Regions from separate parts of the Homo sapiens genome. Here region 1 is linked to region 2. The links come from fine-mapping of genetic effects on gene expression. Tissue or cell type: prefrontal cortex. Region 2 holds a variant in brackets; the other region holds the start of a gene. All regions are shown on one strand. Distances are between the middles of the regions.

Evidence for each region. PIP is the estimated chance that this variant, and not a neighbour inherited with it, causes the effect.
Region 1: it holds the start of TSPAN14, and the variant in region 2 is fine-mapped to the expression of TSPAN14 in prefrontal cortex (CommonMind, PIP 0.95).

The regions. Positions count from the first base shown.
Region 1 is chr10:80,451,174-80,456,270 of GRCh38, forward strand. It overlaps TSPAN14 (tetraspanin 14), which reads left to right and starts at 3,137. Exons shown (of 9, transcript NM_030927.4): 1 at 3,137-3,198. RefSeq lists enhancers at 2,493-2,702, 3,446-3,963, 3,913-4,172, 4,203-4,252 and a silencer at 2,733-3,782.
Region 2 is chr10:80,510,609-80,515,705 of GRCh38, forward strand. TSPAN14 (tetraspanin 14) reads left to right here. Exons shown (of 9, transcript NM_030927.4): 6 at 1,536-1,661; 7 at 3,411-3,455. Among named protein-coding and RNA genes, the nearest start is that of TSPAN14-AS1, 23 kb to the right of the region's middle. The variant TTTGTTGTTGTTG/T (reference allele first, on the strand shown) is at 2,263.

The DNA of each region.
Region 1 (5,097 bases), 59 kb before region 2:
AACATCCTCAACACTTTGGCTTCCACTTAAGATCCAATATGGATGCTTGAGCTCCAGCTATCTATTAATATATCCTAGTGGGCAGGAAAGAGTAAAGCACATGACTTCCCTTTAAAGCCAGTTTTGAATTTGCACATGGACTCCTACACTTACTTCCTATTGGGAGGAATGAAGTGTAGCTGCAAGAGAGGCTGAGAAACTTGCCTTTATTCTGGGAAGCCATGTGGCCAGACAGAATTAGAAATTCTATGAAGGGAAGAGAGAATTACTACTAGGGGCATCTAGCAATCTCTACCAAAGCATCCTATGCTTCCGTATCCTTTCTAGATCCCTCCCAGTTCTCCATTCCCTGTTAGACAAGTTGTGCAAATATGGTAGCTCTACCACAGCATGGCTTCCACCACTACTCCAGGAACACTGCCCTCATCATGTTCACCAATTGCCTTCATGTTGCCAGAGCCAACAGGTCCCAGTCCTCATCTTACCTGATCTCTAAGCAGTGTCTAACACAGCTGACAACTGCTTTCTGGAAACATTTTCTCAGTCTCTGGGATACTCCTGATTCTCCTTCTGCCTCCCCAGTCTCTTTTTCAGTCTTCTTGCCTGCTTTGGTTCCCCTGGGTCCCTCCTGAACTCTCTCCTCTTCTGCATCTACTCCCTCACCCTGTGTGTCCTTCTCAGATCCCGTGGCCTTGAGCATCTTTATGCTGATGTATCCCAAAGCCCCTCTCCCGCCCTGGCCTCTCTTCTGAGTTCCTAGTGATGAGATAACCCCGCTGGTTCTCTAACAGGCATCTGAAGCTCCATGTGGCTTGAACAGAATTCCTGATGTAACTCCCTGAGATGTGGTTCATGCTTTTTGATCCAATAAATGAAGCACTATCCACCCACTTACCCCAGCCAGAAACTTGAGTTATCTTTGGTTTCTCCATTTCCTGCCCCCATGTCCTTCCTATCAATGTGTCCTCTTAAGTCCAAAATAGCATCTCTCAACTACTCATCTTAGCATGACCACCACTTTGGTTCAAACCACCATCATCTTTGGCCTGGATTGTGGCAAGCCTAATTGGCTCCCTGCTTTTATTTTTGCCTGACACCCACACACAGCCTTAAATCAGAACATGTTAGTCTTCTGCATAAAACCCTTCCAAGGCTCAACAAAGTCTCCATTCTTTGACACAGCCCACAGGCCCTGCATGCTTTGGCCCCCACCCACCTTCTCACTCCATCCTGGGCCTCTTCCCCTAGGCTTAAAACTTCAGCCACACTGATTTTCTTTCAGTTCCCTGACCCATCCAGAACTTACCCTGAAAAGGCACCTACTGCTCTCAGCGAGGAATGTCTCTGCCCAACTTTTCCCAAGGCTAACTCCTTACTCTTTTGACTTCAATTTCAGCATCGCCTCCTCACTTTCCCTGACTGCTTCATCTAAGGTAGCTTTTATTCTCTATTCTAGCCCCTTGTTTTTGTCCCAGCCTTTACTTCAACTTGTGATTATGTATTTGTCTTCTCCACTAAAAATTAACTTTATTGGGCAAAAGGCCTCAGCTGTCTTGTTCACTGAAGTATCCCACCATGCACACAGGGCCTGGCATATTATCAGGCACTCAGACAAACACTCACTATCTGCTGAATGAATGGACAGGTTCCCAGGGAGTTTCCAGAGCTGCCTGGGCTGTCACAGACAGGTTGCATCCCTCTTAATTAAACAAACAAATAAAATTAGCCAGGCACCGTGGCTCATGCGTGTAATTCCAGCACTCTGGGAGGCAGAGGCGGAAGGATTGCTTAAGCCCAGGAATTTAAGACCATCACTGGCAACACAGCAAGATCTCGTCTCTACAAAAAAAAAAAAAAAAAAATTAGCTAGGTGTGGTGGCCTGCACCTGTGGTCCCAGCTACTTGGGGAAGCTGAGGCGGGAGGTCGAGGCTGCAGTGAGCCATGGTCATGCCACTGCACTCCAGCCTGGGTGACAAAGCGATACCTTAGCTCAAAAAACAACCCAAACAAACCTGGGAATGGACTGAACAGTCTCCATTTCAAGATTTCCTCCTTCCATTGGAATTAACCTGTTGGTTGCTTGTACTGGCATGTGGCAACCAGTCTTAGCCCAGTTTTAATAGATCCCTGTTTGGTGTTACTCAACAGAGAAGACCACTCGGCCCTCAGCCACCGAATAAGTTTAAGAAACAGAGGTGTGGCATGCTTCATTCTACAGGTAGGGAGGCTGAGGCTGGGGAGCCGCCCCTGGCTATCCCTGGAAACCCCTCTACCCCACAGGAATCGTCCCAGCCATCTCTTTAGCGTAAAGGTGAGGAACAAATCTCAGCCACGATCCAAAGAGGGGCGCCACCCCTGGCTGTCCCTGGAAACCCCCCTACACCACAAGAATCGTCCCAGCCACCTCTTTAGCGTAAAGGTTAGGAAGAAATCTCAGCCACGATCCAAAGAAAGCTTGGTATTTTTAGCACCAAGGCCAGAAGGAGCGTGTCCTTACTCCTTGGTTTACAAAGAAATAAAAACCTTTTCCCCATCCTTCTTTTGATTGAAGACTACCCCCGCCCCCAGGCTCCAAAGCCGGGCAGGAACGCCTCTTATCTCCACCACAGCCATTTTCCTAATCCTTCGCCCGCTCTCCACGGTCATCCCGTGTATCCCTCGAGACGCCGCCTCCCACAGCTCGTGCTTCTCCCAGGTTCGGCTCCGACAAGGCCAGAGCGGCGTCTGCGCAGCGCAACGGCTCAGAGCGCTCCCGGCGGCTACAAGTGCCCGGCCCCGGGCCAGGCCCGGCCTGCGCCGCGCACCCACTGGGAGGGCGCGGACCGGGGCCGCCCCAAGCCTCCGGCACCGCCCAGAGCGGGACAAAGGGGCGGGCCGGCGACCCGGCCTCGCGGTCCCCGGTGCCGCGCGGGCCGGGAGGCGGGGTGCGGTGGGGGAGGGGCGAGGCGGCTGGGGGAGGGGCGGGGCCAGGGCGGGCCCAGGCGCCCGGGGCCGCACCGGGCGGCGCAGGGAAGCGGCGCCCCTTCCTCGGCAGACGGCAGGCGCCGCGCCTCCGGCCCCGCCCCTCCGCGCCCCTCCGCGCCCCGCCCCCGCCGCTCGGACGGCCCGAGTCGCGCCCTCCCGCCCCGCGCCGCGGAACTTGCTCTAACTTCCTCGGCCGAGCCGGGCCGCGCCGCCGCTGCCGCCGCCGCGCGCGGGTGAGTAGAGCGCGGAGACCTGGCTGGGGCGTCGGGCCCTGCCCCTTTCTTTGTCTGAGGCCGACTTCCCCGAGCGTTCTCCGGGGGCGAGGGCTGCTCCTTAGGTCCCTGTTTGGCCCCTCAGCCTCCCTCCCCGCCTGCCCAGGAGCGGCCCCGCGGGCGGCGCTGGCTTTGTCTGCCAGGATTGCTCGCTAGAGGTTGGAGGCCTCCGCCGGGACCCCGCTGAGCCGAACTCCGGCGCCGCGCGGACGAGAGCCGCGGCGGGCCCGGGGCCGGCACTCCTGGTTCGGTAGCCCTCGCCCCATCAGCGCGCCCCGGCGAGTGCGCGCCCGTGCCGGGCGGGGTGAGGGCGACGGGAGCCTGGACGGCCGCTGCTGCTCGGGGCTCTGCTTCTCGTCCCCAGCAGCGAGCTCGGGGATGGGCCACCCTTTCGGCTCAGTCACCCACCCTCGGCTCCCAGGAGATCGGGTCCGGGGTGGGGGTGGGCGTAGGCCGGGGCGGGCCGCCCCTTCCTCCTGCCCCGCCGTGGTTGTGCTCAGTCTCCCACGCCGCCGTGGGTCCCACTCTGCCCGGCTTGGGTTTGGGACGGCCGGAGTTTGAGTAGGCGGTGACCCAGCTTCTCCGCGTTAGTCGTGTGGGGTTGTGTTTGGGAGCAAAGCCTGACCCCTGACCTAGCCGGAGTTCTGGTAGAGTGAGGTTTGTGGCTGCGGACTGTGCTTGTCCCGGGCCGCTGCTGCTTCTCCTCCACCCCCAGGGGTGGGGTGCGGGTGGGTAGGAAGTGCCTGTGTGAGGGTGTGTGGAGGGACTTTGGCCCTGGGACCGCAGGAGCACTTGTCTTGGGGACTTAAAGTTGATCTCCGGCGAGAAACAGTCCGTGCTAGGGGGAGTCGGGGGAAGTCGTGGGCCCGGGTACTGGCCTGGGGCTGGGCGCAGAGCGGTGGTGAGTGCGGCGGTGTCACACACTCGTTGGCTGTGCTGGCGCTGCTATCCGGGAGGTCAGGCGGTGCTGGGCGGCTGTGCAGAGCATTGTATTGGAGCCTCTGCAGGTGTGCTCTTGGCAGTGGTCTGCTCTCCAGGGGATCTTCCTCCCTTCCGAGAGGGAGTTGCTCTTGGGCTAGTGAGAGAGTGGCCTGCCAAATCCTCAAAAGTAGCCTTCCCCTTGCCCCTTGACCTTGAAGTCCAGAAGCAGTTAGTGCCTGCTGAGTGCTCCGGCCACCCTTCTCTATTTGTGAAGGGAAACCTGGGGACAGGCCATCGGAGCACCCCTATGTCCTTGCCACATTTCAGCTAGCCGAGTGGTTGGTGGGGGCGGCCGTCTTTCCAGGGATCTTCCTGGGCCCTGGCACCCCCAGAATGAAGCCCAGACTCCACCATAATGGCCCTGTATGCCCTTCTATCCCCTTAGCTGCTGGTGTGATCATAGCCTCAAATTGCTGGGCTCAAGTGATCCTCCCACCTCAGCCTCCCAAAGCACAGGGATTACAGGTGTGAGCCACCACGCGCAGTCTGATCCCACTCCGATCCCTAACGTTATAGTGACAGGCCCTGGAAACCCAGGGCCACCAGATGTATTTTCCCTTTCCTTCTCATTGTGTTGCACCCCAACTTCAGTTGGAGACTCTGGATATATCCATCCCCACATCTCTGAACTCCACTGCTTGGGCCACCTAATGTCATCCTCAGTTTAGTTAACAAAGCATGGTTGAGATTTCTGTGGGGTGCGAGGCATTGTTGCAGGCACTATTCCAAGTCTGGAAAGTCCCTCACCAGCTATGAACTTGGTGTGGTCTTAGAACCCAGGCTGGACATGGCATAGGTGCTCAGTAGTGTTTATTGATCTGAGCTTGATCTCAGCGTAGCAGGATCATTTAGGGAGACGGGGTTGTGGGGGGGGTCTGA
Region 2 (5,097 bases):
TCACGCCTGTAATCCCAGCACTTTGGGAGGCTGAGGCGGGTGGATCACAAGGTCAGGAGATCGAGACCATCCTGGCTAACATGGTGAAACCCCATCTCTACTAAAAATACAAAAAATTAGTGGGGTGTGGCGGTGGGCACCTGTAGTCCCAGCTACTCGGGAGGCTGAGGCAGGAGAATGGTGTGAACCCGGGAGGCGGAACTGGCAGTGAGCCGAGATCACGCCACTGCAGTCCAGCCTGGTCAACAGAGCAAGACTCCGTCTCAAAAAAAAGATAAAATAAATAAATTAAAACAAAACAAAACAAAACTTCCCAGGGGAGGGATTCAGTAAATTACAGAGCTTCCTTGGAGTGAAATTTCAGGTAATCACTAAAGCAAGTGGAACCGTGGAGGTGTGGGGGAGACAATTTTACCTGAGAAGTAAGCAAAACAAAATAACCAACCAGAAATCACTGTTGTCATTTGTTGTGATTATTGCCATAACCATGTCAGCTGTAAGGGCAAATGCAAAGAAGTTTTTTAGGGGAAAAGACACTGTCAACTTCACAATGATGCTTTCAGTGTTTGGATTTTACACACTTTTTAGTCAAATAAGGATTTTCTTTGTAGCCACACCAGATGCGAGGAAGGGGAGGGCAGAGGCCCCAGGTGTGGGGCAGAGCTTTGATTGTGTTACCTTTCACCTTCATCGGACCTCTTTTCCTCAGGAGCAGACACTTAGCAGCTGTTTTTTGTAAAGGGGTGAAAAGGGGAATTCACTTGCAAGTTTCTCAGGGAGGAAGAACACTGCACACTAGGAAGTGTTCTCTTGTGGCAAGTAGAGGACCACACCAAGGTGCCGAGGGGGCCACAAAGGAGAGGACGCCACTCTCCTGTCTGAGGAGGCTGGAAGGAGGCGTCTCCTTTGAGGAGGCTGGGAAGAAGAGCAAGCTCCCTGCTAAGGAGGGCCAGGGCTGGGTATGTTGTGCCTGGCAGTGGGGCCAGAGGGCTCCACTGAGCCAGCCATGTGGGTTGGACAGAGGAGGCACCGTGGCCCGGAGATACCTTCACTGCCATTTCCTTTTTGTTATTATTTTCTTTAACACATCAAAAGGGCAGGTCCTCTCTCTCTCTCTCTCTCTCTCTCTCTCTCTCTCTCTCTCTCTCTCTCTCTCTCTCTCTCCCCTTTTTTCTTTCTCTCCTTTTCTCTTTCTCTCTCTCTTTCCTTTCTTTCTTTCTGATTGGGGGTGGGGGTCTTGCTGTGTTGCCCAGACTTGTTTCCAACTCCTGGGCTCAAACCATCTTCCCACCTCAACCTCCCGAGTCACTGAGGTTACAGGCCTGAGCTACTACGCCTAGCTGTTTTCTTCTTAAAGGGCTGCCTGGGTTGCCAGCTTAGCATCTCTGCACATGGGAGGTAGGGGGCGGGCCTTGATTTCTCTGCATGGTAGATGCCGGCAGACTTAGCCTGGCATCACTATGAATGATGCCCTATGCTGGGCAGCCATGGCCCTGTCTTGGAGCCCCTAACAGTTCTGGCTTTTGTGGTTGCAGAACCAGTGCTGTGGCGCATATGGCCCTGAAGACTGGGACCTCAACGTCTACTTCAATTGCAGCGGTGCCAGCTACAGCCGAGAGAAGTGCGGGGTCCCCTTCTCCTGCTGCGTGCCAGATCCTGCGGTGAGTTGGCTTGTGCTGGGGCACAGGGAGCCCGCCCTTCCTGAAGCCCAGAAGCTTTCCTGACTCCTCCAGTGCTCTAGGATACTTCTCTGTCATGGAGGTCTGAGGAGCAGGTGTGCTTTCTCCACACCCTCCTCAAGGCTGCCTCAGCTCTGAAATCCGATATGTGTACATTCTAGGAACACTGCTTGCATGACCCACCCTGGCCTTGGTGTTCTGGGTGAGGCAGGAGAAAAACAGTATTATTTCTACCTGGAGGGCTGTCACTTGCAGCTGGCCAAGAGCTATGAGTGAAATAAGGCCCGCTTATCCCTCTTCCCTGTCCTTTTTCTGGAGCAGATTCCTAGAACTCAACAGTGCACGGGGGCTGTGGGTACACATCATTAACTGGGGAACAGTAGTGGAGAATTATTTTCTTTCTTTTTCTCTTTCTTTTATTTTTGAGACAGGGTCTTGCTGTGTCGCCCAGGCTGGAGTGTAGTGGCATGATCTTGGCTCACTGGAACCTCTGTCTCCTGGGTTCAAGCGATTCTCCTGCCTCAGCCTCCTGAGTAGCTGGGATTACAGGTGCACGCCACCACACCCGGCTAATTATTTTCTG[TTTGTTGTTGTTG/T]TTGTTGTTGTTGTTGTTTGGTTTTATTTTAGAGACAGTGTCTCACTCTGTCACTCAGGCTGGAGTGCAGTGGTGCGATCTCAGCTCACTGTACAACCATTGCTTCCCCGGGCTCAAGCAATTCTCCAGCCTCAACCTCCCAAGTAGCTGGGACCACAGGCTTGAGCACCACACCTGGCTAATTTTTGTATTTTTTGTAGAGATGGGGTTTCACCATGTTGCCCCGGCTGGTCTTAAACTCCTGGGCTCAAAGCGATCTGCCCATCTTAGCCTCCCAAAGTGCTGGGATTACAGGTGTGGGCCGCTGTGCCTGTCCTGTCCTTTCTTTACCTATTGGCATTCCCAATCCAAGGCCAACGTCCTTGGGTTCCAGAAGCTGGGTTCTTGGGGTGAACTGTGAAGGAGCTCTGAATTTTGCCTGAACTGAGCCTGAGTAGAACTGGGCCAGTTGCCAGCTCTCGGTGCAGTTATGCAAAGCCTGGTCCTGGGTTACAGGCTTTGAGAAGGCAGAGCATCACCACTATTATATGGGCAAGTTCTGCAGCCCAGGAGAGGCTCAGATTTGCTGAAGCTGCACAGCTCTTCTGAGGTCTCCACTGCGACTGTGAAATGTACCAGTCTTGTAAGTGTTGCTTTTAGCACATATAGTTCTTACCTCCAAGTATAGGTCTTACCTCCTAGCAAACTGTGGCCCCCAGGCCAAATCTGGCTTGCTATTTTTCCATGACCTGTGAGTTAAGAATGCATTCAGATGTTTTTAAATGGTTGGAAATAAATCAAAAGAAGAATAATATTTTGTGGTACGTGAAAATTATATGAAATTCAAATTTCAGTGTCCATAAAGTTTTCTTGAAATACAGCCATTCCTGTTTGTTTACAGATTGTCAGTGCCGGCTCTCATGCAACAAAAGCGGAATTGAGTCTGTGTCTGAAGTACTCACTCTCTAGCCCTTCACAGAGAAAGTTTGCCACCCTGTCCTGGTCTGAAGGATTAGTTGGTGGCATGATTGAAGGACATGAGCTGTAATGGAATTTGCACAAATGTTTGCTAGTGTTTGGTTGTGACTTTACTAGAGCCTCTTAGCACCAGCTTCTTGAGACGCCAGAAGCAACTAATTTTTCTGCTTTTCTTGCAGCAAAAAGTTGTGAACACACAGTGTGGATATGATGTCAGGATTCAGGTGAGAACTCCCATGTATACAACTTGAAGAGTTCTTTAGGTTTTATTCCCTGTGGTTCAACATTCTGATTTAGCACGAGTGCAAATTGAAGTGGGAAAACTCAGGGCAGTGAAGCTCTTGATGCCACCTAAGCTGAGCATAGGCACAGGGTCACATACACTGCTTCCTGAGCTGGCGGCAGGACTCCTGGGAGCAGTAATGGTGATTCTAAGCCTTGTGAGCTGCAGTCCCAACATCTAGGAGTTGCTGCATTTAAAGAGGTGGGATGGAAGTTTTGAGGGACAAAGACTGCATTTTTAGGAGGCTCCTTGGCATCCCAGAAGACGTCTCTCGTTAAGGGGACAGCTGCAGGAGTGTAGGTGCCTTGTTCTGGCCTCCGTGTGGAGGCAGTAGTGACAAAGAGGGAGGCAGGCCTGGGGCAGGGGCGAGGCTCTGTCCTCCAGGACTTCCTTTAGGCTGTAGGGAGTGTGCTCTTAGATGCAAAGAGAAGGAAGACCCCACCCCACTCCAGTCCTTGTTCTAGTGGTCTTTGGTGATATGAATGACTGCTGTTCTAAAAGGGAGGAGTCTCGAGGAATCTTCAGAGACCCCACCTGTTAGCCGTGGATATGAGGGATGTGTCCCTACAGCTTGGGGAACTGTCCTCCTTTAGGGACCTGCATTTCACAGGGAGAAAGTGCTGTAAACTGAATGTGTGTGTCTCTCCAAAATTCACATGTTGGAACTTAAACTCCAATGTGATGGTATTTAAGAGGTGGGGTCTTGGGGAGGGGATTGGGTCATGAGGGCAGAGTCCTTATGAGTGGGATGAGTGTCCTTATGTAAGAGGCCCAGAGAGCTTATTTGTCACTCCACTGTGTGAAGACACAGTGAGAGGGTGCCATCCATGAACCAGAAAGTGGGCCCTCATCCGACACTGAATTTGCCAGTGTCCTGATCTTGAACTTCCCGGCCTCCAGGACTGTGAGAAATAAATTTCTGTTGTTTATAAGCCACCTAATCTATAGTATTTTATTCTAGTTGCCTGAATGGACTAAGATAAGAACCTATATCAACATCAGCTTCCCTAATTATGATTTTTTTTGCCACTTATATTAATTTGCTAAGGCTGCTGTCACAACATACCACAGACAGAAATTTAAGCCACAGCAGGCATTTATTTTCTCACAGTTTGGAGGCTAGAAGTCCAAGATCAAGGTGCTGGCGAGGTGAGGTGGGTGCCTTCAGAGGGCTGTGATGGAAGGGTCTGTTCCAGGCCTCTCTCCTGGCTGCAGGTGGCTGTCCTCTCCCTGTGTCCTCACGTGGGCTCCCCTCTGTGCATGTCTGTGTCCTGATCTCCTCCTCTTAGCAGGATGCTCTTCATATTGGATTAGGGGGCACCCTGATGGCCTCATTTTAGCATAATTACCTCTGTAAAGAGCCTGTCTACAAATACAGTCACCTTCTGAAGTCCTGGGGGTTAGGACTTCAGTGTATGGATTTTGAGGACACAATTTAGCTCCTAACACCTCTAAAATTAGGGGCTAATACTCCATCATGTTGCCATGGAGGAGGCTGATAGGTGTGAGGGGGCTGGGGCCGATTGCCCTGTGTGGGGTGGGCAGGGCTGGGGTGTGTGCTGGGATGGTTACTGACACCCCAC